Linked DNA regions of Homo sapiens: all the other regions are linked to region 1. The links come from fine-mapping of genetic effects on gene expression. A gene starts in region 1. Each other region holds a variant in brackets. All regions are shown on one strand. Distances are between the middles of the regions.

Region 1 (4,339 bases):
ATAAGATAACCCCCCTGATAATTCTTCCATTCAGAAATAACCAGTGTTTAGGTTTGGATATACACCTGTGTTTCTAACACAGTAGTCCCTAGCCACATGTGGTTATTTAATTTAAATTTAAATTGACTAAATGAAAGTAATATTCAAATCATTACTGTCATTTCTGCATTACATCCTTATTTTTGTGTTTCATTTATCAGTATTGTGTCATCAATCACACCTTCCTAGCTAGCTATTAAAACAGTCATTCCTTTTAGCAGCACAATGGTTTATGATATTAACTTTGAGCACAGATACATTTTTCTGGGCTTGTGCAGTGGAGCAGGGCTTGGCTGGGGTGAACCTTGGCTGTTTCCCTTATTAGCTGTGTGGGCTTAGGGAAGAGTTAACTTCTCTGTGGCTCACCTTCTCCATTGTCAAGCGGGGGTAATAGCAGGCTATTTGCAGGGATCAGGAGTTAATACGTGTACACTGCAAGTAATGATCAATAAGTGTCAGCGCCTCCATTCTTTGCCAGGTGTGCACCACAGCTGGGGGATTAAACTTTACCACACCACAGCAGATAACATATTTGCATAACTTGCTTTTTGTCTTCTTAAGCTTTCCTTGAACTCAATTCCCCAGAGTGGTAGAAGTGGTCATAGGGCACTATCATTTTTATGACTTCTGAATTGCCAGATCACCCTCAGAGAGATTGCATCAGTGTTCGGAGCTTGCAGCCAAGCTCGACCCCACAGCCCTGCCATCTGTGCCCGAAGTTCGATCTTGTTGGCTCCAGAATCCCTAGGACATAGTGCAGGAGTGAATCCCGAGCTGGAGCTGGGTGGGCTGTGGGGTCATTCCAGATTGATTAACCTCCGACCTCTGAAGTCTGCAGCTGGAAGGGGCTCCAGGTAAGAAGATAACTTTGAAGCATCACACCAGGAAACCTACTGCACCTGGACTTTCATGACATTTCCTGCGGGCAATTTTTACCTCCACGAAATTCAGTAACCTTTGCAGCCCCTTCAGCCCAAGACCACCAGGAGCAAACCTGTGGTCCACAAAATCGGGTGTACTGACCCACTGCAATGAGGGAGCGCCTCCCAAGAACGAAGGGAAAGGCAGAGTTTGAAGGGGTTGAGGGAAGGCAGAGTTTAGGTGACCTTTACATGAAGCAGGGTTCCCACAGGCTGAGGCCAGCAGGACTGTGTTCCGCGGGGCCAAGTGTGGGAAGCTGTGTGCAGACGCCCCCTATCTGGAGCTGCAGCCTGGATTGGGATGACAGAGGCTAAGTCTCGGTTAGTGGCTGAGCTCCCCGGCCAGACGGGCATGTTTCCTTCTCCCTGCTGTAATCTCAAAGCGGACAGCGTCTGCCAGGTGGTTTCGGGAACAGGGTTTCTCCGAGGGCTAGGGGGCTGCGGTCCCTCCGAGGCGGGGTCGTGGTGGCATTTGGCTGTGGCTGCCTCGCGCCCTCGGGAACGGGCGTCTCCAGCTCGCTGGCAGCTGGTTTTCTCCACGTCTGTCATCGGCCTGGAGTGGCAAGCAAATAGCTGGTATTTTCAGAGCCGCCCTGCCCCGGACAGAGAAGACCGGGCCCAGCAGGCGTTGGTGGATGCCTTTCAAGCTGTAATCAGTTTCCCCGAACGTGTACCAGGTCTCGGCCACAGCCCGAGCCCAGCGCGCTCCCGCGGGGCACCTGGTGACCCGGTGCAGGGCGGGAGGGCCGGTCCCAGGAACCCGAGGGCCGGAGGGCAGGGCCCCCTTCCCGCACCGTCCCCGGGCTGGCAGGAGCGGCCACGACGGCACGCTCCGAGGCCCCGGGTCCCTTGCCCCCTCCAGTCGCTCCCACTTTCTGCCGGGCTTGCCCAACGAGGGGGCAAACACCACGCTCAGGTGGCGTGGACAGGTCGCTGCCGCCTCGGACTACACCAGAGATCTCAGCTATGAGCCTGGACGCCCGCCCCGCCCTCCCGAGGCCCCGCCCCGCCCCCCGAGGCCCCGCCCCGGCGCGGCGCGCAGGCGCGGTCCATCCCGCCCGCAGAGCCGCAGTGCCGGGCGCCAGAGCAGCGGCGCCAGAGCAGCTGCACCATCCCGGCGTTCGCGTGTGCCGCCGCTTTCCTCCTCCATCTCTTTTCCTCCGCCTCCGCCGGCGCGATGGCGAAGCCGCTGACGGACAGCGAGAAGCGGAAGCAGATCAGCGTGCGCGGCCTGGCGGGGCTAGGCGACGTGGCCGAGGTGCGGAAGAGCTTCAACCGGCACTTGCACTTCACGCTGGTCAAGGACCGCAATGTGGCCACGCCCCGCGACTACTTCTTCGCGCTGGCGCACACGGTGCGCGACCACCTCGTGGGCCGCTGGATCCGCACGCAGCAGCACTACTACGAGCGCGACCCCAAGGTGAGGCGCTGCCCCGCCCTGTGCGCCCGTGCCCGCTGAGAGGGCGCCGGTCCCGGAGCCGCGCCAGCGGGGGTCTCTGCGGGGCGGCCCGTCGGGCGTTACCTGCGCCCCTAGCCGGCCGGCGGCCAGGCACAGCCGACTGGGGAGTCGCCTGGAAGCCGCAGTCGGCGGGGCCCGGGCGTCCCCTGCGCAGGGCCGCGGCCACGGGTCCGCCCCACTGGGAGCCCGCGCCTGGCGGGGTCCGCCGTCCCCCGCAGATGATGCTGAGCCCGGGAGCCTGGCGGACGTTCCCGGTCTCTTTCTGGCCGTGCGCTTCCGCGCTGGCTGCAGAGCCGGTGCTCCCCGCCCCTGCCTCCAGCCACTCTTTGTTTTCCTGCAGCAGCCTGTGGGAGAAAATGGGACTGGAACCAGGCCTGGGCAGCCTTGTGGGTTGGAATGGGGTGAGCTCGGTAATCTGCAGGGAATTGTGAGACTTTTTTTTGTGTACGCTGCTTAGAAGAAAATCACTGAAGATGCCTGCTTCACGCAGGGAGGGGTACGAAGCTCAGAGATGGAGATGGAGCCCTCGAAGAAGGCTCTGTCTTAGAGGTTCCCACACCTCCCTTGGAGAAATTTGCTTGGGTTGAAGTTGACAGAGATCATCTTACTAATTGTTACTTTTTATATCTTGCAAAAATTTGTTTGAGTAGTGAAACAAAGTCACTGATTGTCCCCGTTACTCTTAACCATGTTTACTATGGGCCTGTGTTCTTGCTGTGTTTTTGGTATTCCTAAATATACATACACATTTTTAAAAAGTATAATGCACATACAGTTTTTTAGATTTTCTGTTTCATTCGTAAACATTTGTAACTTTTTCACTGATAAACAGCTTTGCAGGTCAATGGATAGGATGGTAGTTTTCAGTTTGATAGGTACATGGTAGTCTTGCACAGCCCCCTGTTGCCAGTTTTTTGTTGTTGTCGTTTGCTTTTAAACTCTTGACCATGGAGAATTGTCTTTCTACTACACTAACGTAGAGGGAGAACTGGTGAGGAAAAGACACACTTCCAGACCTGAAGCCACTTGGCAAAGATTTTACTTGCAGTGTACATCTAGGCAGTGAGCACTTGCTTTATGGATGGTATTTTAGAATATTTTTGTAGGGCATTAAGATATGTTTAATACGGTAATTGCTAAGAGATTGACTGCTTTTCCAAACTTATTCTGGGACATTCTTTTTTCTAAAATGGAGATGGTAAAAGGGACAGATTTGTTAGAATACCAACTGGGGCTCTTCATATTTGGTATGCAAAACATAGAAGTGGCAACGAATGGCCAAAACAGGTTATAACAAGGGCTTGGGATGACTTTGCCAGGAAAAGCAGCCAAGAAGCAGTGGCTCCCCCAGAATTCCCTGCTGTTGGGAGAGTTCTGATGCACAGCACCATTTTTTTTTTTTTTTTAATTCTGAGTCTTGCCCTGTAGCGTGAAGCTAGAGTGCAGTGGCGCGATCTCGGCTCAGTGCAACCTCCGCCTCCCGGGTTCAAGCAATTCTCCTGCCTTAGCCTCCCAAGTAGCTGGGATTACAGGCGCCTACCACCACGCCCGGCTAATTTTTTGTATCTTTAGTAGAGACGGGGTTTCACCATGTTGGCCAGGCTGGTCTCAAACTCCTGACCTCGTGATCCGCCCGCCTCGGCCTCCCAAAGTGCAGGAGTTACAGGCGTGAGCCAACGCACCCGACCCGCAACATCATTTTTATTGTCTAAGTGGCGGATGGCAAGGACATAGCTCTGCCTTCACATTCAAGGGCATTTCCTTGGAGCTGGACCAGGACTCAGCTCTACACCTTAGGGTGCCCATTGGAGTATTTATGTATAATCACATCCTGGAGAGGCCAGCGATGGGCTCAGGGATTACGGAAATGACCTTCATGAACAAGATAGTCCCTGCAACAAAACAGGTTTTTTGATCCTCC
Region 2 (4,339 bases), 340 kb after region 1:
AAGACTTGGAACCAACCCAAATGCCCATCACGGATAGACTGAATAAAGAAAATGTGGTACAGATACACCATGGAATACTACGTAGCCATAAAAAAGAATGAGTTCATGTCCTTTGCAGGGACATGCATAAAGTGGGAAGCCATCATTCTCAGCAAACTAACACAAGAACAGAAAACCAAACACCGCATGTTCTCACTCATAAGTGGGAGTTGACAATGAGAACACATGGACACAGGGAGGGGAACATCACACACCTCACACATCGGGACCTGTCGGGGCGGGTGGGGGGCAAGAGGAGGGAGAGCATTAGGACAAATACCTAATGTATGTGGGGCTTAAAATCTAGATGACGGGTTGATAGGTGCAGCAAACCATCATGGCACATGTATACCCATGTAACAAACCAGAACGTTCTGCACATGTATCCCAGAACTTAAAGTAAAATAAAATTAAAAAACAAAAACAAAACAAAACAAAAACTTGGCCGGGTGCAGTGGCTCACGCCTGTAATCCCAGAACTTTGGGAGGCCGAGGCAGCTGGATCACCTGAAGGTCAGAAGTTCGAGACCAGCCTGGCCAACATGGTGAAACCCCCATCTCCACTAAAAACACAAAAAATTAGCTGGGCGTGTAATCCCAGCTACTCGGGAGGCTGAGGCAGGAGAATCGCTTGAATCCGGGAGGCAGAGGTTGCAGTGAGCCGAGATGGCGCCATTGCACTCCAGCCTGGGCAACAAGAGTGAAACTTCGTTTCAAAAACAGCAACAACAACAAGAACAACAACAAGAAGAACAAAAACTCTGCTTTTAAAAGTATTTTAAGTCCAGTGTGAAAAACCTAGAAGTCACAGCAAAGGCCGCTAAGAAACTTACCATTACTCATGACCCCTCTTACTACTGACCTTGAAAATCACTTGCCCTTCTCCAAGGCCCCGCCAGCTTCATGGGTCTCTTCCTGAACCTCCTCCCTAGTTCCAGGGCTTGGCCTAAGTCTCACAGAGCAGAAAGAAACGTGGCCACCCTTCCTCACGTGAGTCCTGTGCAAACATACAGCCCCACACAGAGCTCCTAACAATGGGGCATCAGTACCCAGGCACGATCGATGATTATGAACCCAACGCGATCAGAGACTCCCACATGGTGTGTGTGACTGCGCGCACAGGCGGGAGGAAAGGGGCGAATCTGCAAAACGAGTACAACAGATAAAATTCGCAACAGACTTCTACACCCTTTCAATCAACCGTCCCAAGCGCCACGAACGCGGGTCCCGCTCCGTGGGGGGCCGCAGCCACACTGGCAGGAGGGAATCCTGGGCCTCGACCAGACGCCGGCGGCGTCAGGAGAAACGGCCCGCGCTGGGCAGGCGGCGGGCACCGCGTAGCTCATTACCACGGGGGGCCCCGGCCAAGGCCGCCCGCCTCAGGCCGAGCCTTGGGGCTGTGCTGGACCCGGGCCCTCGTTCGCACGGCGCCCGCGCCGCCGCCGTCGGGAAACCGGGTTTTCAAGCGTTCGGCCCAGCGGGCGCTGTATTTTAGGGCGTGACCCCCGCCCCGCCCTCGAGGGCGACCGGAAGAGCAGGCACCACAGCAGATGCGCCGAGTCTGCGCCCCGCACCGCGAGGAGCACCCGAGGCCGCGCTCCCGGAGCCGGGTCTGGTGACTAAGGCGCGGGTCGCGACGCAGGGGCGGCCCCGGACTCTCGACCCCACCAGCCGCCTGAATGTCCCGCCGGACGCCCGGGCCGGCTCACCTGGGAGGCGCCTCCGCCGTCCGCCCGCGCGGGGCCAGGAGCGCGGCACCACCCCCGTACCGCCGGCCGCTCTTTGTGTCTGGAGGCCGCGACGCAACACTCCTCCCGGCCTCGAGGCACCGCCCCCTCGGTGTCCCGGCGCAGTGGGCGAACAGGGGGCGGGGCGAGCGAACGGGAGAGGGGGCGGGTCGGGTCCGGGATTGCGGGGCGGGGTGGGGGCAAGGCGGCCTCCGCAAATCTCAGGGCGGCTCTGGCCAGTTTGGAGCCTGGGGTGACCCTTGGAGCTGACCTCGCTGGTCCCTGTCGGAGCCCTGCGCGCTGCGGAGCTTGGCGGTTCGCAGCTCTCGGGGTAGCATCTTCTGGAAACAAGCCCGGAGGCCGGCCAGGCAGGGGT[A/G]ATACCCCAAACCCACCACTGAGGAAACCGCGACTTAAAACCTAGGTCGTCACGTTTCCACCGCATATTAAATCAATACGGGTTGAGCATCCCTAATCCAAACATCTGAAATCCGAAATGCTTCAAAATCTGAAAGTTTTTGAGCGCTGACCTGATGCTCAAAGGAAATGCACATTGGAGCACTTCTTTTTTCTTCTTTTAACTTTCTTTTCTTTTGAGAAAGGCTGTCACTTCTGCTGCCCAGCCTGGGATGCAGTGGCGCGGTCATGGCTCACTACAGCCTCGACTTTCCCGGCTATGGCGATCCTCCCGCCTCAGCGTCCCAACCCCCAGTAGCTGGGACTGCAGGCATCTGCCACCATGTCCGCTAATTTTTGTATTTTTAGCACAGAGTCTCACTGTGTTGCCCAGGCTGGTCTCGAACTCCTAGGCTCAAGGGATGGATCCACCGCCTCGGCCTCCCAAAGTGCTGGGATTACAGGCGTGAGCCACCGCGCCCGGCCTGTATTTTTTTAAGAGAGGAGGCTTCACCATGTTGCCCAGGCTGGTCTGGAATTTCTGGCCTCAAGTGATCCTCCCACCTTGGCCTCCCATAGTGCTGGGATTACTGGCATGAGCCACCGCACCTGGCCTCATTGGAGCATTTCTAATTTTGGATTTTCAGATTAGGGGTGTTCAATTGGTATAATGCAAATATTCCAAAATCTGAAATCCTAAATGCTTCTGGTGCCAAGCATCTCGGTTAAGGGATATTCAACCTGTATATATTTATCGAACACCTACTAGGGCCAGGCATTGTCCTAGGGGCTGCCAACAGCGGTGCAAAAAATCCCTGGCCCTTATAGAGTTTACACAGAAAACAATTTAAAAACGTAAATACCCGGCCGGGCATAGTGGCTCATGCCTGTCATCCCAGCACTTTGGGGGGCTGAGGCAGGCGGATCACCTGAGGTCGGGAGTTCAAGACCAGCCTGACCAACATGGAGAAACCCCGTCTCTACTAAAAATACAAAATTAGCCGGGCGTGATGGCATATGCCTGTAATCCCAGCTACTCAGGAGGCTGAGACAGGAGAATCGCTTGAATCTGGGAGGCGGAGGTTGTGGTTATCAAGCCACTGCACTCCAGCTTGGGCGACAGAGTGAGACTCCATTTCAAAAAAAGAAAAAAAAAAGTAAATACAGCCAGGCACGGTGACTCATGCCTGTAATCCCAGTAGTTTGGGAGGCCACTGTGGGCAGATTGCCTGAGGACAGGAGTTCGAGACCAGCGTGGCCAACATGGTGAAACCCAGTGTCTACTGAAACACAAAAAAATTAGCCAGTTGTGGTTAACGCGCGCCTGTAGTCCCAGCTACTCGTGAGGCTGAGGCACAAGAATTGCATGAACCCAGGAGTCGGAGGTTGCAGTGAGCTGAGATCTTGCCACTAGACTCCAGCTTGGGCGACAGAGCAAGACTCTGTCTCCAAAAAATAAAAATAAAAACATAAATATACAAAAATGTCAGAGAGTTATATCAGAATTACAAAATGAGCTACAGTACACTGTAGCATGAGAAAGGTGCATATACTTTGTAGGAACTCCACTTTAGAGGATGTGAGGATCAGAGGCAAAATGGGGTGAGAAGGAAGCAGGATGAAAGACAGGCTATGGGGGAACGGAGTTTCCAAGGGCGAGTGAAATTTCCAAGTGCCTGCAAGTGCTAAACCCCATGCAGAGCAAAAGGCAAACACAGGGAGTGGTTCAGAGACGCTCATAGTGTGTTCTAGGCTGGGAGGTTTCTCTGACCTGCTGAATGTGCCCAGATACCTTTTGCTATGCCCATGACCTGTCCCAACCAGTGTGGGGCACAATGGCAGGACACACCGTGCAAAGGTGGTCCCTGTGGGATGCGCAGCCAAGACCCCGATGACTCCAGTTTATAACCCTGGATTCCCAGGGGTGCTCAGAGCCATGGGGGCTGCCATTGTGAAGAATGTCTTCTCTTCAGTGCTCCTGATGCTCTGCACGGGCTCCCACTCACTGGCTGGAGAATGAATTTGGAGTCAGAAGATGTGAATCATGCCACTTACTAGCTGTTTGACTGTGGATCACCCAGTCATGTAACATCTGTGATCTCAGTTTCATTTGCAAAATAGAAATGTAAAAATTACCCATTGCACAGGAGTGTACTGAATTTATTTGTTATTTTATTTCT
Region 3 (4,339 bases), 410 kb after region 1:
TGGCACGATCATGGTTCACTGCAGCCTCAACCTCCTGGGGTCAAGCGATCCCTCCCACCTACAGGCCCCAGCCACCACCCCAGCTGAATTATTGTATTTTTCGTAGAGATGGGTTTTCGCCATGTTGGCCAGGCTAGTCTTGAACTCCTGACCTCAAGTGATCTGCCTGCCTCGGCCTCCCAAAGCGCTGGAATTACAGGCACGAGTCACCACTTGCCCAGCCAAAACTGCTATTTTGAATTCCTGGTCAGAGAGCTCACAAGTTGCCATCTAGATAGGGTCACTCTCTGGATTTTTGGTTTGTCTTTTTGGGGAGGTCATATTCGTCTGTTTACTGTTGTTTCTTGTGGGTATATATATATGTTTTTGCAATGGAAGATTAGTTATTTATTCTAGTTTTCTCTGGCTTATTTTGCTTTTTATTGAACATATTTGCTTGGTGAATCTTTGCTACTAAGTCGCTGCCTTCTCTGTGGCTGTAGGTGGCACGTTAAGCCCAGGTTTGCCTCTTCTCTTCTAAGTGGTCAGAGCGCTGCCTGTCCTAAATGGAGGAGGTCCTAAAGATATTATCCCAGCAGTGAGGGAAGATTGTCTAGGAGTTCATGCCCAGGGGACCTGGGGAACTCCCTCCTACAGCATGGTGCTGGTGAACAGACACTCTGATTTAGCATCTCCTTTGGCTGAGTTACAAAGCGGTTTCTGAGGCTGGGGGTGGTAGTCCTGCCTACCCTGCTTGTTTCTGCCTGTCCTTAGGGTTAATTCTCCCTTCAGGCAGTCACGATGCTACCCATGGGTTAAAGCATGGAGAGGTCTCCTGCCTGGGAATCCAAGAAGTTGGAGAAGTGGCTGACAACCTCAATTTCACTTTTTCCATTGTAGAAACCATGAGCTGCAGGGAGACTGGTGCCAGGCATAATAGGGGGAGGGGCATCATGGATATGGAAGTCCAATTCTCCTGTCCTTTGCTTGAAGTTTTTCCTCTTCTCTGTGGCCCTGGGAATGGTCTCACCCTTGTACTTGAGCTCCGGGTTGTTGCTGGTGAGGAGTTTGGAGGTGCATATTTGGTTTTGGTTTTCTGTGGTGGGGATTGAAGCCATCTTGGAACTTCTTGTCATGTGTTTTTAAACACATCTATTTATAAGTGTAATATAAATAGTAAAAAAAAGTGTATTTTGTATGTTTTCTTTACATATATAATTTAGTAGATGTTTTAAAATAAAAATGAGACAATATTAAAGAGTATGAAACAATAGAAAAAATGAGATGAAATATGAACAGTTGATTTCTGTGTATGTGTATATACACACCTACACTTTCCTTTTAGATACTACAGTTTACTCTAAAACATGAAAATTCAGAAGTCCTTATCAGGTACTTGGTTTCAAAAATAAACTATAAATTTGAAAAGGCAGAAGTAATGCGAGAGACATTGACCACAATGCAGAAATTTAAAAATGAAAGGTAACAAAAAATGTATCCATTTGGACATTGAAAACATACATTGGAGTCTTAGCTTACAGAAGAAGTAAAAGTAAAAATTGCAGCATAAAGAAAGGAAATGACATTCAGCATACATTTCGGAAACTGAAAGATATTTTGATAAAAACAAGAAGAAGCAAATAAATGAGTTTAATACCAATGTAAGAAGCTGGAAAAGGACCAAATGGCCAGGCATGGTGGTTCATACCTGAAATCCCAGCATTATGGGAGCCTGAAGTGGGAAGATACGTGGGACCAGGAGTTCAAGACCAGCCTGGGCAAGAGAGTGAGACACTGTCTCTAGTACAAAAATTAGCCAAGTGTGGTGGTGCTTGCTTGTAGTCCCAGCTACTTGGGAGGCTGAGGCAGGAGAATCACTTGGAATAGCCTGGGTAACAGAGCAAGGCCCCATCTCTTAAAAAAAAAAGAAAAAGAAAAAGAAAACCAAAAGTAAGACATAACCACAGGTGTGGAGGAGAGTATGTAATTGTAAAGAAATACGATATAATCTTTGGCAAGAATAAAATTAGGAGAAAGGTATGTGCTTCTCTAGGAAGGACATGCCTGTTATTAAAAAGTGTTTAAAGAATAAGGAAAACCTTTGATTCACTAAACTGCAGGTCACTTCTCAGTAGTTTCAACCAGCACTTATTTTTTTGTGTCTGTATTGTTTATTTGGAATTTTCCTCTATGGTTTGTTTAAATATCAGTAAAGATCTGAATGGCACTGTGTTTTTACTTCATCATTTGTACATAGGATGTTCACCCATTGTTGAAGAAAGCGTTTTGTTTAGGAGAGAGTGTCTGTGTACTGTGGTGTGCGATGGTAGATGTGATTATCACTGAAGGTCACCGAAATGTGAAAATCCCTGGTACTGGCTTGACAGCTGTGTGGAAATAAAGACAACTCAAACGGGAACAATCAGGGCCCACTTAGAAAGTGCTTGCTAAAGCAAGAGAGTCAGCCACTTTTGACAAAGTGGGAAAGCTTTGTAGTGAACAAAAGGGAAGGCATCAGATGTGCTGTTGACTGGAGGCTACTGACATGGGACACTGGAAGTGTCTAATAAGCATT[C/G]AGGCATCTCATATGACTGGTTATGGGAGTACATTTGGCTTTCTCTGCTTGGTTCTGAGTTGGAAGCCAGGGCACAAATTAGAGAAGCTGCATCACTGCCATGTCCTGACTGGTGTGGGTTTGTTGCTACAGCAGTTCCTGGTTTGCCTTTCTGAGCTGGTTGCTGCAAAGGGTGTGGGTCACACCCTGCTAAGATTCACACTGACAAATGTATGCAGGCTTGGGAGTGAATGGAGAGGAAGCCATTTAATCATGGGGCCAATGAGTCTCTGCCTTAATCATGGGATTTGAGGTGACATTCAGTGTTTTATACATTGATTGATTTCTTTATTGAAGTGAGTTTTATATAATATAAAACTAACCATTGTAAAGAGAACGACTCAGTGGCAGTTGGTAGATTCACAGTGTTGCTCAACCATTGCTTCCATCTAGTTCCAAACAATTCCATGTCAAAATATAGCTCTGTACCTACCTGTTAAGCACCTCCTTCTTATTTCTCCCTCCTCCTAGCCCCGGACAACTGCCAGTGCTCTTTTCATCCATATGGATTTACTTACTCTGAATGTTTTAAATAGAATCATACAATATGTGACCTTTTGTGTTTGTCTGTTTTTCCTAAGCATGTCTTCAAGGTTCATCCACGTTGTAACAGATGTTATAATTACTTTCTTGTAATTTTCTTTCTCTTTTCATTCCTTTTTTTTTTTTGACACAGGGTCTCACTCTGTTACCCAAGCTGGAGTGCGGTGGTTCAATCTCGGCTCACTGCAGCCTTGACCTCCCAGGCTCAATTTTTCCATGGACAGGGTCAGGGGGATGGTTTTCGGATGAAACTGTTCCACCTTAGATCATCAGGAATTAGTTTGATTCTCATAAGGAGTGTGCAGCCTAGATCCTTTGCATGTGCAGTTCAGAATAGGGTTCATGTTCCTATGAGAATCTAATGCCACCGCTGATGTGACTGGAGGTGGGGCTCAGGCGGTAATACTTGCTGGCTCCTTTGTTCACCTCCTGCTCTGTGGCCCGGTTCCTAACAGGCCATGAACTGGTACCCATCCACGGCCTGGGGCTTGGGACCACTGCTTTAAATCCTAGATTACTTTAATACCTAGATTCCTAGGTTACTTATAATACCTAGTACAGTGCCTACATATAACTTTATTGGTGTGGATTTGACTTAGTATTTGGCTCAGGGAAAATTCAATTTTTGCTTTTTGGAACTTTGTGAAATTTAACATATTTTTGAATATTTTAAATCTGAGTTTGGTTAAATCCAGAGACACAGAACCCATGGATACGGAAGGCCCATAATATATACACAATGGAATATTACACAGACTTAAAAAGGAAGGTAATCCTGTCTCATGCTCCAACATGGATGAATCTTGAGTGCTAAGTGAAAGAATCCAGTCACAAAATGACTGTGTGATTTCACTTACATGAGTAATCTAAAGTAGAAAAATTCATAGAAACACAAAGTAGAATGGTATTTACTAGGGTGTGGAGGGAAGGGGAAAAATGGGGAGTTGTTTAATGACTATAGAGATTCCATTTTGCGTGATGCAGAAGTTCTGGGGACCTGGTCCACAACATTGTGAATATATTTAATGATACTAAAATATATGCTTAAAAATGACCAAGTTGGTAAATTTTGTTGTGTGTTTTAATATAATTTTTTTTTTTGAAACAGGGTCTCACTCTGTTGCTTAGGCTGGAGGACAGTGGCACCATCTTGGCTGACTGCAACCTCAACCTCTTGGGCTCAAGCGATCCTCTCACTTCAGC
Region 4 (4,339 bases), 40 kb after region 1:
AAAGTGCTGCCCAGCCCTGCTGGCCACTTTGTGTCTAGTTCATGACTGGCTCATGGGAACAACCTTCCCGAGTTCTTGCTTGTTCAAAACGGCCTGGACCCTTCACCATGAAGGTCGGTTTGGCTGAAGATGCCAGTCTTAACTCCACTTCCTTCCCCCAGTGCTTTTTAGGGCCCTACCGGGCACTGTCTGGAGGGTGGGTGTGTGTGCAGAAGTCTGGCGATGTCTGAGTTCTCGATCTCATCAGTGACTCACTGTCATTGCCGTGTCTTGGTGTTGGCCGTTACAGGGCATTTTCGCCAATACTCCGGGTGCTTGTTGAACGTGTTGCTGGACTTCAGGGAAGTTGTCTGTTTGAAACGTGTGTTTGGTTCTGTTTGGTTTTCTGCTTCTGGGCTGCAGTGTGGCGTGAGGTGGCTTTCTCTGGCCTTCTTCCTTGGTGCCTACTTCTCTCAGGACTTGGTTTGTCCTTGTCCTGTGGAGTGGCACTGCTCTCTGGAGTCTCTGCCGGCTGCACTCTCCTCCCGTGCCCTCTGCTCCTCTCCTCTGCTCTCTGCCCCCCTCCCTGAGGACTTGGCATTTGGCTCCATGTCTTTCCAAGTTGGTGGTCACCAAGGGTATGTGATTTGCGAAGGGGTTCACTCCCCTCCTGTGGCCTGTGGCGGGGCTGGGTGCTGACTTCCATTGCTACGTTGGTGTGAGCTGGATCACCTGGGGCTATTCGGAATAGGCTTCTCAGCCCTCCAAGGCAGCTCCTCTGCTGGGCCAAGGCCATGCTTCCCCAGCCTGTGGCTGCGCCTCTGCTGTCTCTCCGGGTCTCACCTGGGCGGGAGGCTCCTCTGGAGGCCAGGACCTGCCTTGTGAGGGTGCCCTTGTGGGAGAGGCGCTTGCCCAAACCTGCTGTTCCCCGGGGGCTCCTTGGTGGCCCCCAGGACTGGAGCTCTCTGCCCAGAGTGCCCCTCCCCAGAGGTTAGGACTCCCATGACCCTGTCCCCTGCCCACTGTGACCTGGGGTTTGCATGGTTTCCTTCTTTCCTAGTTGTGGTGAAATCATCACTTGTGTGTTTCGTTTTTCCTGTTCTCTGCTGATTTCCAGAAGTGACAAGATCCAGCATTTAAGGGGCAGCTGCATTCCTCCTGGAGCCTGGGGCTGGGTGGTACACATCAGCCCGACTCCCTGCTGCCTCACCCAGGCCCGGCTCGCTGGTGAACGCCTGTCCAGGGTGGCCGCTCATCCCCTTTTTGTAGGAACCTCCCGTGAAATCTGCAAACAAATGACCTGGCGAGGACAGCCTGTTTGCTGGGCTGGCAGTGAGCCGGCCGTCATGGCTTGACCCTCCATCCACTTCTGTGAAGAACTTTGGGGGCCCTCACCCGCTGTCCCAGTGAGGCAGAGGGGAGACACAAGGTCTCACCCAGCGCCCCTGCAGGCTGATGGCACCACAGCCACAAGGCTGAGGTTGCCACTTTTTCTTTGTGTCATCCAAACAATGTGTTTAAAACACAATTTAAGGCCAGTGTGGTGGCTCACCCCTGTAATCCCAGTGATTTGGGAGGCTGAGGCCTGATGACTGTTTGATGCCAGGAGTTTGAGACTGGTCTGGGCAAAAAAGTGAAACCCCATCTGTACTAAAAGTGAAAAAATTAGCTGCATGTGGTAACCTGTCGGTGCCTGTAGTCGCATCTACTTGGGAGGCTAAGGAGGGGAAGATCACTTGAGTCCAGGAGTCTGTGGCTGCTGTGAACCCGGATTACACCACAGTACTCCAGCCTGGGTGGCAGAGCTAAACCTTAACTCTTAAAAACAAAAACAAACAACAACAAAAAAAACCCAAGAGTGGTAGAGTGCGAGGCGCGGTAGCTCACGCCTATAATCCCTGCACTTTGGGAGGCTGAGGCGGAAGGGTTGCTTGAGCGTGGGAGTTTGAAACCAGCCTGGGCAATGTAGAGAAACCCTCATCTCTACAAAAAATTAAAAAATTAGCTGGGCGCAGTGGCACGTGCCTAGGATCCCAGCTACTCAGGAGGCTGAGGTGGGAGGATTGCTTGAACCTGGAAGGTAGAGGCTGCAGTGAGCTACGCTTACACCACCGCACTCCAGCCTGGGCGACAGAGTGAGCTGCTGTCTCAAGAAACAAAACCAAACAAAACCCACAAGTGTGCCCTTCATGTA[C/T]AGGGGCCTTGAACACTGGTGACCAGACCCAAGGAGGCTCCTGTGTTGGGCTTTTCTGGAAACTGAGGTGCAGCTTTTCCTCTGAGCCCCGGGGAATAGCATCTTTGCTCGAGTCAGCTGCTGGGTTCGTCCATGGTCCTGGCTGGCCTTCCTCACCAGCGGGGAACCTAAGTGCAGACCTCAGGGTGGCCTCACTCCCTTGTAAGTGGCAGGTTCCTGGTGGGTGGGCAGGTGGGTGGCCAGTGGCCCTGTGCCACTGTCACCCGTGTCTCTGGGGCTTGAAGTACATGGCGGAGCGTGCCTGTCCTGCCTCAGGGTCGGCCTCTGATGCTGCTGGGCCCCAGCAGGGGCTCGTCCGGCTCGCGGTGCCTTGTGTGAGTCTCTTCCGTGTGTCCTGCAGGAATCAAGAGAGACCCGGCCAAGGCTTTTGTGCCCAGGACTGTTATGATTGGGGGCAAGGTGAGTGACTTCCTCTGCAGTCCTCTCTGTGGTGTTTGGTCTGGGGATAGTGGGTGGGCAGCCTGCACGCTTCTCATGGTGCCACCACATCCATACTCGGGAACCGGATGCCCAGCGGTCACCGGCCCCTCTGGTATGCCTGTGGGGGTGGGGACCCTGTAGAGAGTCAGAATGGGATGGAAGCCTCCTGCCTGCCCAGCTCACTGGAGGGGTCCCCAGCCTAGAGGGCCAGTCCCCAGTGGGCTTGCTGGTGCCCACCTCAGAGAGGGCAGTGTCCTTTCTCTTTGTGCCCAGTGGGCACAGGGCGTTGTGGCTGCTTCATCACCTGCACATGCCCTGAGCATTGCCTGGTTTCAGTTCACTTTATTTACTATGACACATACTTTCAGAGTCCTAGATGTGCTGTCATCGAGTCCCAGGTCACATCGTCACACTCATCAGCCCTCTGCGGCCAGTGTCCCCACCTCCTGCCATGTTTCCCTAGTAGCTTGGTCTTTATCCAGAACTGTGAGGCTGCTGTGGGGTGCAGCGTCCTTAGGAGGGTCCTGCTGGAGCAGTGGCCCTAAGTGAGTCTGGACTGTGTGAGGCACCCCAGCCCTCCACGGCAAGGCCGGGGCCTGGGGGTGCTGGTGCCTGTGTGCAGCCTGAAGGCTGCCCTCTTGCTGCCTTCAGCGAGTGGGAAGCTGGTCAGAGGGGTGGGCACTCCTCTGGGCTCCGCCACCTCCTGGCACACCCCATTTGGTCTCTGTCCACTCCTGTCACCTGCTGTTTTTGAAGCAAATTTTGGAATTGTGTCATTTTATTTGTCAGTATTTCAGTATGTAAAGTCCATAGAGATACGGAGTTCGAAAAAGTTTTAAATGTTATTATGAAAATTTTAGGCTGGGCACGGTGTCTCACGTCTGTAATCCCAGCACTTTGGGAGCCAAGGCGGGTGGATCGCATGAGCCCAGGAGTTCGAGACCAGCCTGAGCAGTGTGGTGAAACCCCATCTCTACAAAAAAGTGCAAAAATTAGCTGGGCGTGGTGGTTCATGTCTGTAGTCCCAGTTACTTGGGAGGCTGAGTAGGAGGATCGATTGTCCTGGGTGATTGAGGCTATAGTGAGCTGTGATTGCACTACTGCACTCCAGTGTGGGCAGCAGAGCCAGACCCTGTCTCAGCAAAAAAAAGAAAAAAAAAAGAAGGAAACATTTGAACCTGGAGAAAAGCAGGAAGAATTGTAGCAAAACCATAAACCTGTCACCCAGACTAGCTGAAGCATTTCACAGTAAACTGCAGACACTCTAGCTCTTCACTCTTACATACGTCAGCATTCCTTTTCATAAAATGATGTTTTCCACCAGAACCACAATGGGAGTAGACTGAAACATCACCACACAGTACCACCATCCGTCACACCTAAAGCATTGGACAGGAGTCCTCCGTGTCCTGAAATGTTCACTCGGGTACTTCATGGGTCCCCTGCCCAGTTGTCTTTGTAAAGTAACAGACATTTCTAAAAGTTGGTCTGAGTGAGGGCCCAGTGAGTCCTCACCTTGGACTGGCCGTGGTGTCTCAGTTCTCTGTAGGTTTTCCCCACAGTCTGTCTGTTACAGACATCGGGTTGTCTGTCCGCCGTAGCCTGGCTCTTTCCGAATGTGTCCCTCCAGTGTGTCCCAGTATGTCCCTAGGGACAGTTCTCTGTTTCCTGTCAGTCGGCAGCTCT
Region 5 (4,339 bases), 71 kb after region 1:
AGCCCAGGAGGTCGACGCTGCAGTGCGCTGTGACTGTACCACTGCACTCCAGCCTGGGCAACAGAGGAGGAGGACCCTGTCTCACACACACAAACAGCCCAGCAATAGTTAACTCTCAAGCTGTGAGTCTGGTGACTCCCTTCACTTCCTGCCCTGGAAAGAACAGCCCAGGGAACAGGTGTGGGTGCTGCCTGCACTCACCTTGTAAAGCTCCACGCGGTGGTCGCCTCCTCTGGAGAAGAAAACAGGACATGGTGTGAGCACATCTTCTCAGAGTTGGGCCCCAGGTCAACTTGTCCTCCATACCCCAAACCAGGGGGAGGCCAATGAAAGAGGGCAGAACCTCTTCCTTGGGTCCCCCTAAGTAGCCCCACACTCGCCTCTGGCAGTGCTGTGCCAAGGGGGAGATGGTCTTAGCACTTTGGGGGAGATTTCTTAATGACTGCTTTTATTTTTCAGTAGGTAATGCACACCTACAGCCCCAAACTAGAAAGACACTAAAGGAAACACAGCAAGGCCTCATCCACCACACCCCAGACCCTCCCAGCTTCCCTGTGCCAAGGACACCCTGTGTAGACAGAGGCTGTGCTCCAACAGGACCCGTATGGGCGACTTCTGCCCTCACTTCTTGCTCCGCACGTCTCAGCCGACCTTCAGAACTCTGCTTAGCCACACCACCCTGGCCTCTCATGGTCATCTTGACTGTTTCCCACCTGGCACTAACTTCTGTTTGCTGCTGTGGCCACCCTGCCTTACAGCCCTTCACATGTGTGTGCTCTGCACATGGGATATGCTCCTAGAATCTCCCCAGGGAGGCCCTGAAGTGCCGGAACGGCTGCCTCCCGCCCCTCACAGCCAACTACAGCTTCACCGTGCATGTCGCTACTGAGACTAAGTGGGCTCGGCACACACCCTCCCATTTGTACTTCCTTGTCTGAGGCCTGTCTAGGCTCCCTTCCCTCTTTCTTTCCAGTTGTTGGCCAGCTGTTAACCTGGACCGACCCCACAGCAGGGACATGGGCCACCTGGGAGGAGGGCGGGTCCACACTCTCCACACTCCCTAGCCGTGCTCCTCCTTCCTCAGGAGCGGTCTCAACATTTCAGGTATGGGGGCGGGAGTGTTGCTGGTTGGACACCAGGATGAGATGGAGGAGGAAGCCAATAAAGTACAGAAACAAAAATATAAAGGGTCAGGTGCGGTGGTTCACACCTGTAATCCCAGCACTTTGGGAGGCCGAGGTGAGCAGATCACTTGAGCTCAGGAGTTTGAGACCAGCCTGGTCAAATGGTGAAACCCGTCTCTACTAAAAATACAAAAATTAGCTGGCCATGGTGGTGGGTGACTGTAATCCCAGCTACTCGGGAGACCGAGGCAGGAGAGTCACTTGAACTCAGGAGGCTGAGGTTGCAGTGAGTCAGGATTGTGCCACTGCACTCCAGCCTGGGCAACAGAGTGAGACTCTGTCTCAAAAATTAAAATAAAAAATAAAGGAATGAGTTTCAAGGCAAGGAGGAAACACTGCAAAATATTTTCAGTTATCATTGTAAGAGTTCACAGTGGCTCTAAGTTTCTAAAATTTCCTACATTAAGCAAAAAAGGAACAGTTGCTGGGAATCCAGGGGGTCTGGACCTCAGGGGGACCCGGGTGGTGGATCCCGCAGACCAGCGAAACCCCAGTGGGATGCACAGGACAAAGAAAGCAGGCAACGTGGGGGTGGCGAGGACTGCAGCCAGGCAGTCTCTGCAGGATTGGGAGGGGGCAGCAAACACTGAAAGTCACGGCATCCCTTTCTAACCTAAAGTTATAGGCAGGATCTTTTTTTTTTTTTTTTAACCATGTGATGGGCACTGCAGAACTGAACCTTATTCACAGCCAACCACAGTTCTGTCATTTATAAAAAGATGCTGCAAGAGCTGTTTGTAGCCACTTGCTCTTTGAAAAGCAGAAGAGAAACCCTCTGCAGCTTGTCCCAGACAAAGAAGAAAGGAAACTGTGCAGCACATGCATGATTCTGTAGCTAGACACGCCATCCCTGACACAGAAACCGCTTCA[C/T]GGGCCATGCCGCCAGGCTCTTTCAGCAATGCTCTCTGCAGGGTTCCACCATGCAGACCCCACCTAGGCCTGCTTTCCCTTCCAGAAGGGCCCAGCACAGCTCTCCTTGCTGGCTCTGCCTATAAAATGTTTGCCCCCAGCCCTGACATACCCTGGTGCCACACGGGACCTCGGCCCTGGCCCCGCAGCAGCCCTGTCTCCGTGCTGGGTCTGCCTCTGTGCTGGCTCCTGGCTGCCTCTCTCACACACGAAGACCTTGGTGGTTTTCAAACAATGCTTTGTTCAGAAAATGTATCCCCTCCGCACCCACCCTGGGTTCTCCCACAGAGGCTCTTCTGAACAGCAATCACATGGTGTGGAAGGAGCACCCTTTTAAGGCAGGGAGGCCAACTCCAGGGCAGCCAGTGGAAAGGACAAGCCATTAGACCCACTCAGGAAAAGCATCTGAGATAAAACTGGGCAGGGCTGATTAACCAAAGAGTGCATGAACTTCAGCAACAGCCCGTTAGGGTGAGCAGAGAGCTCACACTGTAGGGTGGCCTGCAAAGACCCCAGCACCTGGTGCTTTCAGCCTCTCCCTCCTGCCCCTTCTCAGCACCTGCCACTTTTTTCCAGGAAGTGTGCCACCTCCTCCAGGGCTGCCCTGGCTCCGGCTTCACCTGTCTGCCACCTGGAGCTATCTTACAGGTAACAAAGATCTGCCTGCCACTTCAGGCAGCATGACAGATATAGAGAAAACAAGCTGCCAGTGAGCTGAAGCCGCCCATTCCCAAGAGCGCGAGGCACCCACAGCCAAGTGCCACTATGACCCCTCCTCGGAGGGACCCCAAAGCCCTCACTCTCCAAGAAACCCTGCTCCCCAAATCACATACCAGCAGATGCTGTGACCTTTGAGATTACAACAAGGAGAAAAAAACATGCCCCTCTGGCTGGGGAGCTCAGCTCCTGACTGAGACTCAGCCTCCTTCATCCCAATCCAGGCTGCAGCTCCAGATAGGGGACGGTCTGCACACAGCTTCCCACACTTGGTCCCCACGGAACACAGCCGTGCTGGCCTCAGCCTGTGGGAACCCTGCTTCATGTAAACGTCACCTAAACTCCGCCTTCCCTCAACCCCTTCAGAACTCTGCCTTTCCCTTCGTTCTTGGGAGGCTCTCCCTCATTGCAGTGGGTCAGTACACCCAATTTTGTGGGACCGCAGGTTGCTCCTGCTGGTTTCCGGCAGACCGGGCCAGGACATTCCCACCCCAAAAAGGAGCCATGCTCCACAGCAAAGATGATGGGCTCCTCTCCCTCACCTGGTACCTGCGTTCCCATGCAGGTACAGAATGATAGGGTGGCTGGAAGCCAAGGCATCCTCATACCACATCTGGTCTTTGCCTTGGGCGTTCTTCCACCAGACTGCAGGGACGGTGTGCCTGCAGACAGAAGCAGAGGGGAGCGCAGGATCAGATGTCCCTTCTGTCCTCATCCTGGCGACTGCACGTGGTGTTACTTAATCAGCTCAAGTCCAGACAGCAGGGAGCTGCAGACCCCATCTAACTACAGGGGAACAGATGGGGGTGGGTGGTAGAAAACTATCCCCATCACTAGAATCAATAACCACGGAACTGCAGGCTGTGTGGATGGCACTGACAGCTTCAGCAGGAGCGTTCCCTGACTGGCAGGCCAGCCTCCTCTGGGCCACAAAGGCTTGCAATGTGCCAGTTACCACTGGGGCCTGGCAGAGAAGCAGCACTTAGTCCATCTTGAGTAATAGCATTTTCCTCATACGTGCCCCACATCCCAGTTAACCCCATGCTTAAATTGTCCACAGTTTAACTCACAATGGATTTTAAACAGTACATGCTGTCACATTTGCTAATTCAGCAACACCAATGTTTGTGAGCCAGACTAGAAACCGGGCCATCGCTGACGCCATTTCTAATGTCAAGTATGCACCACCTTCCCAGTCTGCTCATGGTCCACACCTGGCTGGGCACTCTGAAGCTGCTGGTCTATCTAGCCAAACCCTCCTTCAGAGAGATACTGAGGTTAATTTTAACTCAGGCCACATCGAATACTGTTAATCACTGGGGAGGGTCCAAATTAATCACTTTTCTGTAAAGCTTATTCAAATTCATTCTGGATACCAGTGACAAGAATCTTTAAAAAAATTTAATGGCCAACTTCTTATTTTCTAGATCTTAAGCTTCAGCATCTCATTTCTAACGTCTCTCTCTGATCCGTTCAAAAGGATCACTTTTGGGATGGTTCTAGTCACTATGATCATCACTCCCATACAG
Region 6 (4,339 bases), 84 kb after region 1:
TGCGGGAAAGGCTGAAACTTACTGAGCTGTGATGGTCTTTGAGTGCTGAGGGTCTGAACAGGGGGCTAAGTCTCATTCCAATCACTGTGAGTAACAGAGCAGCCTTGATACCGGCAGCCATAAGAGGTGTGGTGTCAAGGGAAAGCCTGGGTTGGTTATTTGGGTTTTATCAAATTCCAATTACCTGATGCAGGCTTACAGGACCTTCCGTATGAAAAAAGGGGATAAGAAAAGAAAGGTAACAGGAGTCAACAGGGACTGCTCAGGGGAAGGAAAAAGAGGAAGCTGGCCCTTTGCTTTAAAAACAAATGCATGGAATTGTGTTGAGGGAGGAGCCAAGATGGCCAAATAGGAACAGCTCCAGTCTACAGCTCCCAGCGTGAGCGACACAGAAGACGGGTGATTTCTGCATTTCCATCTGAGGTACCAGGTTCATCTCACTAGGGAGTGCCAGACAGTGGGCGCAGGTCAGTGGGTACGCGCACCGTGCGCAAGCCAAAGCAGGGCAAGGCATTGCCTCACTCGGGAAGCGCAAGGGGTCAGGGAGTTCCCTTTCCTAGTCAAAGAAAGTGGTGACAGACGGCACCTGGAAAATCGGGTCACTCCCACCCGAATACTGTGCTTTTCCGACTGGCTTAAAAAACGGCACAACAGGAGATTATATCCCGCACATGGCTCGGAGGGTCCTACGCCCACGGAGTCTCGCTGATTGCTAGCACAGCAGTCTGAGATCAAACTGCAAGGCAGCAGCGAGGCTTGGGGAGGGGCGCCCGCCATTGCCCAGGCTTGCTTAGGTAAACAAAGCAGCCAGGAAGCTCAAACTGGGTGGAGCCCACCACAGCTCAAGGAGGTCTGCCTGCCTCTGTAGGCTCCACCTCTGGGGGCAGGGCACAGACAAAGAAAAAGACAGCAGTAACCTCTGCAGACTTAAATGTCCCTGTCTGACAGCTCTGAAGAGAGCGGTGGTTCTCCCAGCACGCACCTGGAGATCTGAGAACGGGCAGAATGCCTCCTCAAGCGGGTCCCTGACCCCTGACCCCCGAGCAGCCTAACTGGGAGGCAACCCCCAGCAAGGGCAGACTGACACCTCACACGGCTGGGTACTCCAACAGACCTGCAGCTGAGGGTCCTGTCTGTTAGAAGGAAAACTAACAAACAGAAAGGACATCCACACCAAAAACCCATCTGTACATCACCATCATCAAAGACCAAAAGTAGATAAAACCACAAAGATGGGGAAAAAAAAGAGCAGAAAAACTGGAAACTCTATAAAGCAGAGCGCCTCTCCTCCTCCAAAGGAACGCAGTTCCTCACCAGCAACGGAACAAAGCTGGACGGAGAATGACTTTGACTAGCTGAGAGAAGAAGGCTTCAGACGATCAAATTACTCCAAGCTACGGGAGGACATTCAAACCAAAGGCAAAGAAGTTGAAAACTTGGAAAAAAATTTAGAAGAATGTATAACTAGAATAACCAATACAGAGAAGTGCTTAAAGGAGCTGATGGAGCTGAAAACCAAGGCTCGAGAACTACGTGAAGAATGCAGAAACCTCAGGAGCCAATGCGATCAACTGGAAGAAAGGGTATCAGTGATGGAAGATGAAATGAAGCAAGAAGGGAAGTTTAGAGAAAAAAGAATAAAAAGAAACGAGTAAAGCCTCCAAGAAATATGGGACTATGTGAAAAGACCAAATCTACGTCTGATTGGTGTACCTGAAAGTGACGGGGAGAATGGAACCAAGTTGGAAAACACTCTGCAGGATATTACCCAGGAGAACTTCCCCAATCTAGCAAGGCAGGCCAACATTCAGATTCAGGAAATACAGAGAACGCCACAAAGATACTCCTCGAGAAGAGCAACACCAAGACACATAATTGTCAGATTCACGAAAGTTGAAATGAAGGAAAAAATGTTAAGGGCAGCAAGAGAGAAAGGTCAGGTTACCCTCAAAGGGAAGCCCATCAGACTAAAAGCAGA[C/T]CTCTCGGCAGAAACTCTACAAGCCAGAAGAGAGTGGGGGCCAATATTCAACATTCTTAAAGAAAAGAATTTTCAACCCAGAATTTCACATCCAGCCAAACTAAGCTTCATAAGTGAAGGAAAAATAAAATACTTTACAGACAAGCAAATGCTGAGAGATTGTGTCACCACCAGGCCTGCCCTAAAAGACCTCCTGAAGGATGCGCTAAACATGGAAAGGAAAAACCGGTACCAGCCACTGCAAAATCATGCCAAAATGTAAAGACCATCGAGACTAGGAAGAAACTGCATCAACTAATGAGCAAAATAACCAGCTAACATCATAATGACAGGATCAAATTCACATATAACAATATTAACTTTGAATGTAAATGGACTAAATGCTCCAATTAAAAGACACAGACTGGCAAATTGGATAAAGAGTCAAGACCCATCAGTGTGCTGTATTCAGGAAACCCATCTCACGTGCAGAGACACACATAGGTTCAAAATAAAAGGATGGAGGAAGATCTACCAAGCAAATGGAAAACAAAAAAAGGCAGGGGTTGCAATCCTAGTCTCTGATAAAACAGACTTTAAACCAACAAAGATCAAAAGAGACAAAGAAGGCCATTACTTAATGGTAAAGGGATCAATTCAACAAGAAGAGCTAACTATCCTAAATATATATGCACCCAATACAGGAGCACCCAGATTCATAAAGCAAGTCCTGAGTGACCTACAAAGAGACTTAGACTCCCACACATTAATAATGGGAGACTTTAACAACCCACTGTCAACATTAGACAGATCAACGAGACAGAAAGTCAACAAGGATACCCAGGAATTGAACTCAGCTCTGCACCAAGAAGACCTAATAGACATCTACAGAACTCTCCACCCCAAATCAACAGAATATACATTTTTTTCAGCACCACACCACACCTATTCCAAAATTGACCACATCCTTGGAAGTAAAGCTCTCCTCAGCAAATGTAAAAGAACAGAAATTATAATAAACTATCTCTCAGACCACAGTGCAATCAAACTAGAACTCAGGATTAAGAAACTCACTCAAAACAGCTCAACTACATGGAAACTGAACAACCTGCTCCTGAATGACTACTGGGTACATAACAAAATGAAGGCAGAAATAAAGATGTTCTTTGAAACCAACGAGAACAAAGACACAACATACCAGAATCTCTGGGACACATTCAAAGCAGTGTGTAGAGGGAAATTTATAGCACTAAATACCCACAAGAGAAAGCAGGAAAGATCCAAAATTGACACCCTAACATCACAATTAAAAGAACTAGAAAAGCAAGAGCAAACACATTCAAAAGCTAGCAGAAGGCAAGAAATAACTAAAATCAGAGCAGAACTGCAGGAAATAGAGACACAAACAACCCTTCAAAAAATTAATGAATCCAGGAGCTGGTTTTTCGAAAGGATCAACAAAATTGATAGACCACTAGCAAGACTAATAAAGAAGAAAAGAGAGAAGAATCAAATAGACGCAATAAAAAACGATAAAGGGGATATCACCACTGATCCCACAGAAATACAAACTACCATCAGAGAACATTACAAACACCTCTATGAAAATAAACTAGAAAATCTAGAAGAAATGGATATATTCCTCGACACATACACCCTCCGAAGACTAAACCAGGAAGAAATTCAATCTCTGAATAGACCAATAACAGGAGCTGAAATTGTGGCAATAATCAATAGCTTACCAACCTAACAGAGTCCAGGACCAGATGGATTCACAGCTGAATTCTACCAGAGGTACAAGGAGGAACTGGTACCATTCCTTCTGAAACTATTCCAATCAACAGAAAAAGAGGGAATCCTCCCTAACTCATTTTATGAGGCCAGCATCATCCTGATACCAAAGCCGGGCAGAGACACAACCAAAAAAGAGAATTTTAGACCAATATCCTTGATGAACATTGATGCAAAAATCCTCAATAAAATACTGGCAAACCTAATCCAGCAGCACATCAAAAAGCATATCCACCATGATCAAGTGGGTTTCATCCCTGGGATGCAAGGTTGGTTCAATATACGCAAATCAATAAATGTAATCCAGCATATAAACAGAACCAAAGACAAAAACCACATGATTATCTCAATAGATGCAGAAAAGGCCTCTGACAAAATTCAACAACCCTTCATGCTAAAAACTCTCAATAAATTCGGTATTGATGGGACACATCTCAAAATAATAAGAGCTATCTATGACAAACCCACAGCCAATATCATACTGAATGGGCAAAAACTGGAAGCATTCCCTTTGAAAACTGGCAGAAGACAGGGATGCCCTCTCTCACCACTCATATTCAACACAGTGTTGGAAGTGCTGGCCGGGGCAAT
Region 7 (4,339 bases), 520 kb after region 1:
CTCTTGCCCCACAAATAATTGTACTCCCAGGGGAAAACTGCACTCTGCTGAAAACCAGGCACCCACTCCCTCTGCTCCTGCACTCAGGTGGCTGTGCACAGCCAGAGAGAAACACACATGCCTTTTGCTCTCATTTAATCATCAAGCCCAAACCTCCAGTGGGCACTGGATGATGTTCTACAGACTCACTCATTTCCTGAGTCCATAAGTCTGCCAGACTTCTTTGTTATCTTAATAAAAAAATATATAATCTAAGCATGTTATGAATACCAACTGATTTAATTATCATCAAACTCTATGAATCTGTTCTATAATAATCACTATTTCACAGCTGAGGAGATGCTGGCACAGGAAGAGATGAAGTGACTTGCCCTGGAGCCCAGGCACCCAGCTCTAGAAGTGCTGCCCTGTCCCCAAGCAACAGTATCTTGCCTCCTCCTTCCTCCTTAAACCTCTAAAACCTTCCTCAGCCTTCCTTACACCTGTTGCCTTGCTTCCTATTTCAATTTGAAAATAGATGCAATAAAGAGAGAACCTTCCCTGGATCCCACCCCCACATCTCCCCAGCTGCTTGCCTCTGTGCTTCCTTCTCCACCTTCGCTTGTTATTGTAGCTGGAGTGTCTCCACTCATGTTAGGGGCGAATTTCCTCCATCATATCCACATCATATCCACATTATATCCACAGCTCAACCCTCAGGTTCTTTCCTGAGTGTCCGCTTTGCACACTGCCTGGTTCCACAATGCGGTCTCCCACCCATCTCACACCCTGCATGCTTACTTATTCATCATCTGTTCTGCTCTACTACAGTGAGGGGCAGGGATTCTGGGTATCTTATTCACTGCAGATTCCAGCATCTAGAGCAGTACCTGGCACCTAGAAGGTGTTGGTATTTAATGAAGTCAGTCATTTTATATGTCAGGCTCTGGCCTGGTGCTGGGGACACTAGGGTGATTCAGACAGGTCCAAGTTTACAGTCCCATAGGGGAGACAAACACATTACCTGACAAATTTGCAGGCAGCCATTTATATTTTCCATCTTACAAAGCAGCCGTTATTGTACTTGAGAGGAAATGCACTCAAGCCGTGAACTGTAGCCGTGAGCTCCCCTACCTCAGGACAGAAAGCCCCAGGCTCCAGCCCTTACATTCCTGGGCCTCCAGGGCTCCCTGGACTTTAGGAAACATCTAGTAAGGGAGACCAAGTCCACTTTGACTCAGAGCTGTGGGATGTCAACAAGGTGCTTCCCCTCTCTGGTCCTCAATGTCTTCGTCTATTACAAGAGATGATGGTGCCAGCTCAGCGAGCTCCACAGGGCTGGGGCAAATGGGACAGGGAGGGTGACAATGCTTTGTGGACAGAGAGGAGGAATTCTGAGTGGCTACTGGAAAGGCACCATGTTTATTTGACAATTTCAAACATGACAGAACTGCAGAACACAGACATCAAGATTCCCCTGTAATTCCATTTGGAGTCTAAAGCTTAGATTTTGTTTTGTTTAAGCAGTGGCAAACATTATGTATAGATATAGATGTGGGATCATAAAATGTGTTTAAAAGTTATTGATGCAGGACAACTTTGCATATCAATACACAAGCATTTATTTGATTTGTTTTAATAGCTGTGAAATATCCCACTGTATGAAGAGACTAAAATCTGTCCTTGTGTTGTGGATATTTGGATTGATGAACCATTGGAACAAAACAGAGAGGGCAATCAAAGCATTTGACAGCCTGGCAGATCAAAGTGAGAGGTTTATTACAGAAGACAG[T/A]AATGCTAAAAGGGGAGGAGAGCTAAGTGAATCCACCTGCTGCAATCAGAGCCGAGAATCCCACCACCCTAAAAGCCAGGAGACAACGCGGCCAAAAGGGCAGAGGCCCCCAGGGCTCCCAGCCATGCCAGATGCAAACTTGTCATCCCACCCTGTGTGTGGGCTTCCTATGCCCTGGACAGTCTTTCCTGAGGCAGAGCTGTTTTAAGAGCTTAGAGCACACATTCTACAGCAGAATTTCTTATGAATGAGGTCCCTGTTCTGTGCTCCTCACCTATCCTGGGCCCTTTTCCTAACTTGACTTTCGGTAGTGGGTGGATAGAGGCCCCAGGTAAACACCAGGCCCCAGGTGGACATCAGGGCTCAAGTGGACACACAGGCTCCAGGTGTATATCAGGCCCCAGGTATATACCATTTTCCTGGTACGTATTAGTAACCAAGGGGACACCGGACTCCAGGTGTACATCAGGCTCACAGGTGAACACCCAGGCCCCATATGGACACCAGCCTACAGGTGAGCATCAGGCTGCAGGAGGATACCCAGGCCTTAGGTAGATATCAGGCCCTACAAGGACACCAGGCCTCAGGTGGACATCAGGGCCCAGTTGGGGACTCAGGTTCTAGGAAGACACCCAGGCCTCAAGTAGCATCAGGGCCAAGGCGGATACTAGACTCCAGGTGGACATCAGGCCCTAGTTGGTCACTAGGCCCTAGGTGGACACCTGGGTCCCTGGTGACCATCAGGCCCCAGATTAACTCCAGGCCTTAGGTGAACATCTGATCCCAGTTGGATATCAGACCCCAGGAGAACATCAGTCCCCAGGTGGATATCAGCTTCCAAGTTGACATCAGGCCACAAGTGGACACTGGACTTGAGGTGTACATCAGGCCTCAGATGGACACCCAGGCCCCAGGTGTACATCAGGCTCAGGTGGAAATCAAGGCACAGGTAACACCAAGGCACAGGTGGTTACCTAGGCTTCAGGTAGACATCAGACCCCAGGTGGACACCTGGGTCTCCGGTGGTCATCAGGCCCTAGGTGGAAACTCAGGTCCCAGGTGCACATCACGTTCCAAGTGGACACCCAGGCCCCATGGTGATACCCAGGTTCCAGGTGGGCACTGGGCCCCAGATGAACACCAGGCTCCGGGTGGATACCAGAACTTGGGTGGACACCCAGCTCTGAGGTGGATATCGGGCTCCAGGTGGACATCAAGCCTCAGGTAGATATCTAGTCCCCAGGTGGACATAAGACCCCAGGTCGACACCAGAACCTGGGTGGATACCTAGGTTTCGGATGGATGCATCTCCAGCTGAACATCAGGCTCCAGGTGGACACCCAGGCCCTAGGTGAACACTAGGTCTTAGGTGGACATTAGGCCCCAAGTGGACAACCAGGTCCCAGGTGGACACCCAGCCTTAACATGGACATCGGGCCCTAGGTAGACAGCAGGTTCAAGGTGCATATGAGGCTCCCGATAAACACTGGTCCCCAGGGAGACCCTTGTCCCCAGGTGAACACCAGCACCCAGGAAGACATCCACCTCCACCTGCACATCATTCTCCAGGTTTATACCTAGGCCCTGTGGGAGCACCAGGCCCCAAGTGAGTACATAGATCCCTGGTGGCCATTAGGCACCAGGTTGACACCCAGGGCTTAAGTGGACATGAGGCCCCAGATGAATGCTAGTCCCCAGGTGGATAAATAGGCCCCAGGCATACATCAGATCTGAGGTCTATACTCAGTCTTCAGGTGGACACTAGGCCCCAGGCAGACACCAGACCCCAGGTGGATACCAGGCCCTATGTAGACACCAGTCTGCAGGTGGACAGCAGGCCCCAAGGGGACATTATGCCCTGGGTTGACACCTAGGCTTCAGGGCAACACTAGGCCACAAGTGGTTACCTATGCCCCAGGTGGACATCAAGCTTTAGTGGAATTCCTAGTCAGCAACTGAACATCAGGCCACAGGGGGATGCCCAGGCTCTAGCTGAATACCAGGCCTCACATGGACATTAGGCCCCAGGTGAACAGCAAGCCCCAAGTGAATACCTAGGTTCCTGGTGAACATCAGGAAGCAGGTGGCACTCAGGCCCTACACTCAGGCCAAAAGAGAAATCAGAACATATGTGGACACTCAGGGCCCAGGTGGCTATCAGGCCCCAGGTTTATATCACTTTCCTGGTAGACATCAGTACCCACGTAGACACTGGACTTCAGGTATACATCAGGTTCCTAGGTGGACACCCAGGCCCCAGGTGGACACCAGCCTACAAGTGGACATCAGACCACAGGAGGACACCCGGGCCCCAGATAGATATCAGACTCCAGAGGAACACCCACGTCTCAGGTGGACATCAGGTCCCAGGTTAATTCCAGGCCCCAGGTGGAATTCAGGCCCCACCTGGACACAAGTCCCTAGGTAGATACATAGGCTCTGTAGGCCCTGGGGAACATCAGGCCTTAGGTGAAGTTCTAGGCTACAGGTGGACATCTTGCTCCAGTTGGACATCTGGTCCCAAATGGACATCGGTCTCCAGGTGGACACAAAGTCCCAAGTTGGACA

Direction of the effects. Positions count from the first base shown, and alleles are read on the strand shown. Sizes are in standard deviations (SD) of each study's normalised expression. Not every link is listed here.
In carriers of allele C in region 3, the expression in thyroid of the gene that starts at base 2,043 in region 1 tends to be lower than with G alone (small effect, 0.27 SD a copy in GTEx).

Evidence for each region.
Region 2: its variant is fine-mapped to the expression of PYGB in unexposed skin (GTEx, PIP above 0.99).
Region 3: its variant is fine-mapped to the expression of PYGB in thyroid (GTEx, PIP above 0.99).
Region 4: its variant is fine-mapped to the expression of PYGB in blood mononuclear cells (TOPMed, PIP above 0.99).
Region 5: its variant is fine-mapped to the expression of PYGB in whole blood (TOPMed, PIP above 0.99).
Region 6: its variant is fine-mapped to the expression of PYGB in whole blood (TOPMed, PIP above 0.99).
Region 7: its variant is fine-mapped to the expression of PYGB in whole blood (INTERVAL, PIP above 0.99).

Annotation. Positions count from the first base shown.
Region 1 is chr20:25,246,043-25,250,381 of GRCh38, forward strand. It overlaps PYGB (glycogen phosphorylase B), which reads left to right and starts at 2,043. Exons shown (of 20, transcript NM_002862.4): 1 at 2,043-2,379. The coding sequence starts at 2,137. RefSeq lists silencers at 1,075-1,328, 1,347-1,426, 1,607-1,796, 1,807-1,996, 2,307-2,686 and an enhancer at 2,077-2,156.
Region 2 is chr20:25,583,707-25,588,045 of GRCh38, forward strand. It overlaps NINL (ninein like), which reads right to left and starts at 1,825. Exons shown (of 24, transcript NM_025176.6): 1 at 1,749-1,825. RefSeq lists a silencer at 1,760-1,889. The variant A/G (reference allele first, on the strand shown) is at 2,143.
Region 3 is chr20:25,657,542-25,661,880 of GRCh38, forward strand. The region is part of intron 2 of ZNF337-AS1 (ZNF337 antisense RNA 1); the gene reads left to right. Among named protein-coding and RNA genes, the nearest start is that of ZNF337-AS1, 36 kb to the left of the region's middle. The variant C/G (reference allele first, on the strand shown) is at 2,555.
Region 4 is chr20:25,285,852-25,290,190 of GRCh38, forward strand. It overlaps PYGB (glycogen phosphorylase B), which reads left to right. Exons shown (of 20, transcript NM_002862.4): 15 at 2,574-2,632. Among named protein-coding and RNA genes, the nearest start is that of PYGB, 40 kb to the left of the region's middle. The variant C/T (reference allele first, on the strand shown) is at 2,174.
Region 5 is chr20:25,316,847-25,321,185 of GRCh38, forward strand. ABHD12 (abhydrolase domain containing 12, lysophospholipase) reads right to left here. Exons shown (of 13, transcript NM_001042472.3): 4 at 3,353-3,472; 5 at 202-232. Among named protein-coding and RNA genes, the nearest start is that of PYGB, 71 kb to the left of the region's middle. RefSeq lists enhancers at 131-740, 1,854-1,913, 1,944-2,183 and a silencer at 2,534-2,613. The variant C/T (reference allele first, on the strand shown) is at 2,055.
Region 6 is chr20:25,329,625-25,333,963 of GRCh38, forward strand. The region is part of intron 2 of ABHD12 (abhydrolase domain containing 12, lysophospholipase); the gene reads right to left. Among named protein-coding and RNA genes, the nearest start is that of ABHD12, 59 kb to the right of the region's middle. RefSeq lists an enhancer at 646-1,167. The variant C/T (reference allele first, on the strand shown) is at 1,979.
Region 7 is chr20:25,768,216-25,772,554 of GRCh38, forward strand. All of the region lies in intron 3 of FAM182B (family with sequence similarity 182 member B), which reads right to left. Among named protein-coding and RNA genes, the nearest start is that of FAM182B, 26 kb to the right of the region's middle. The variant T/A (reference allele first, on the strand shown) is at 1,772.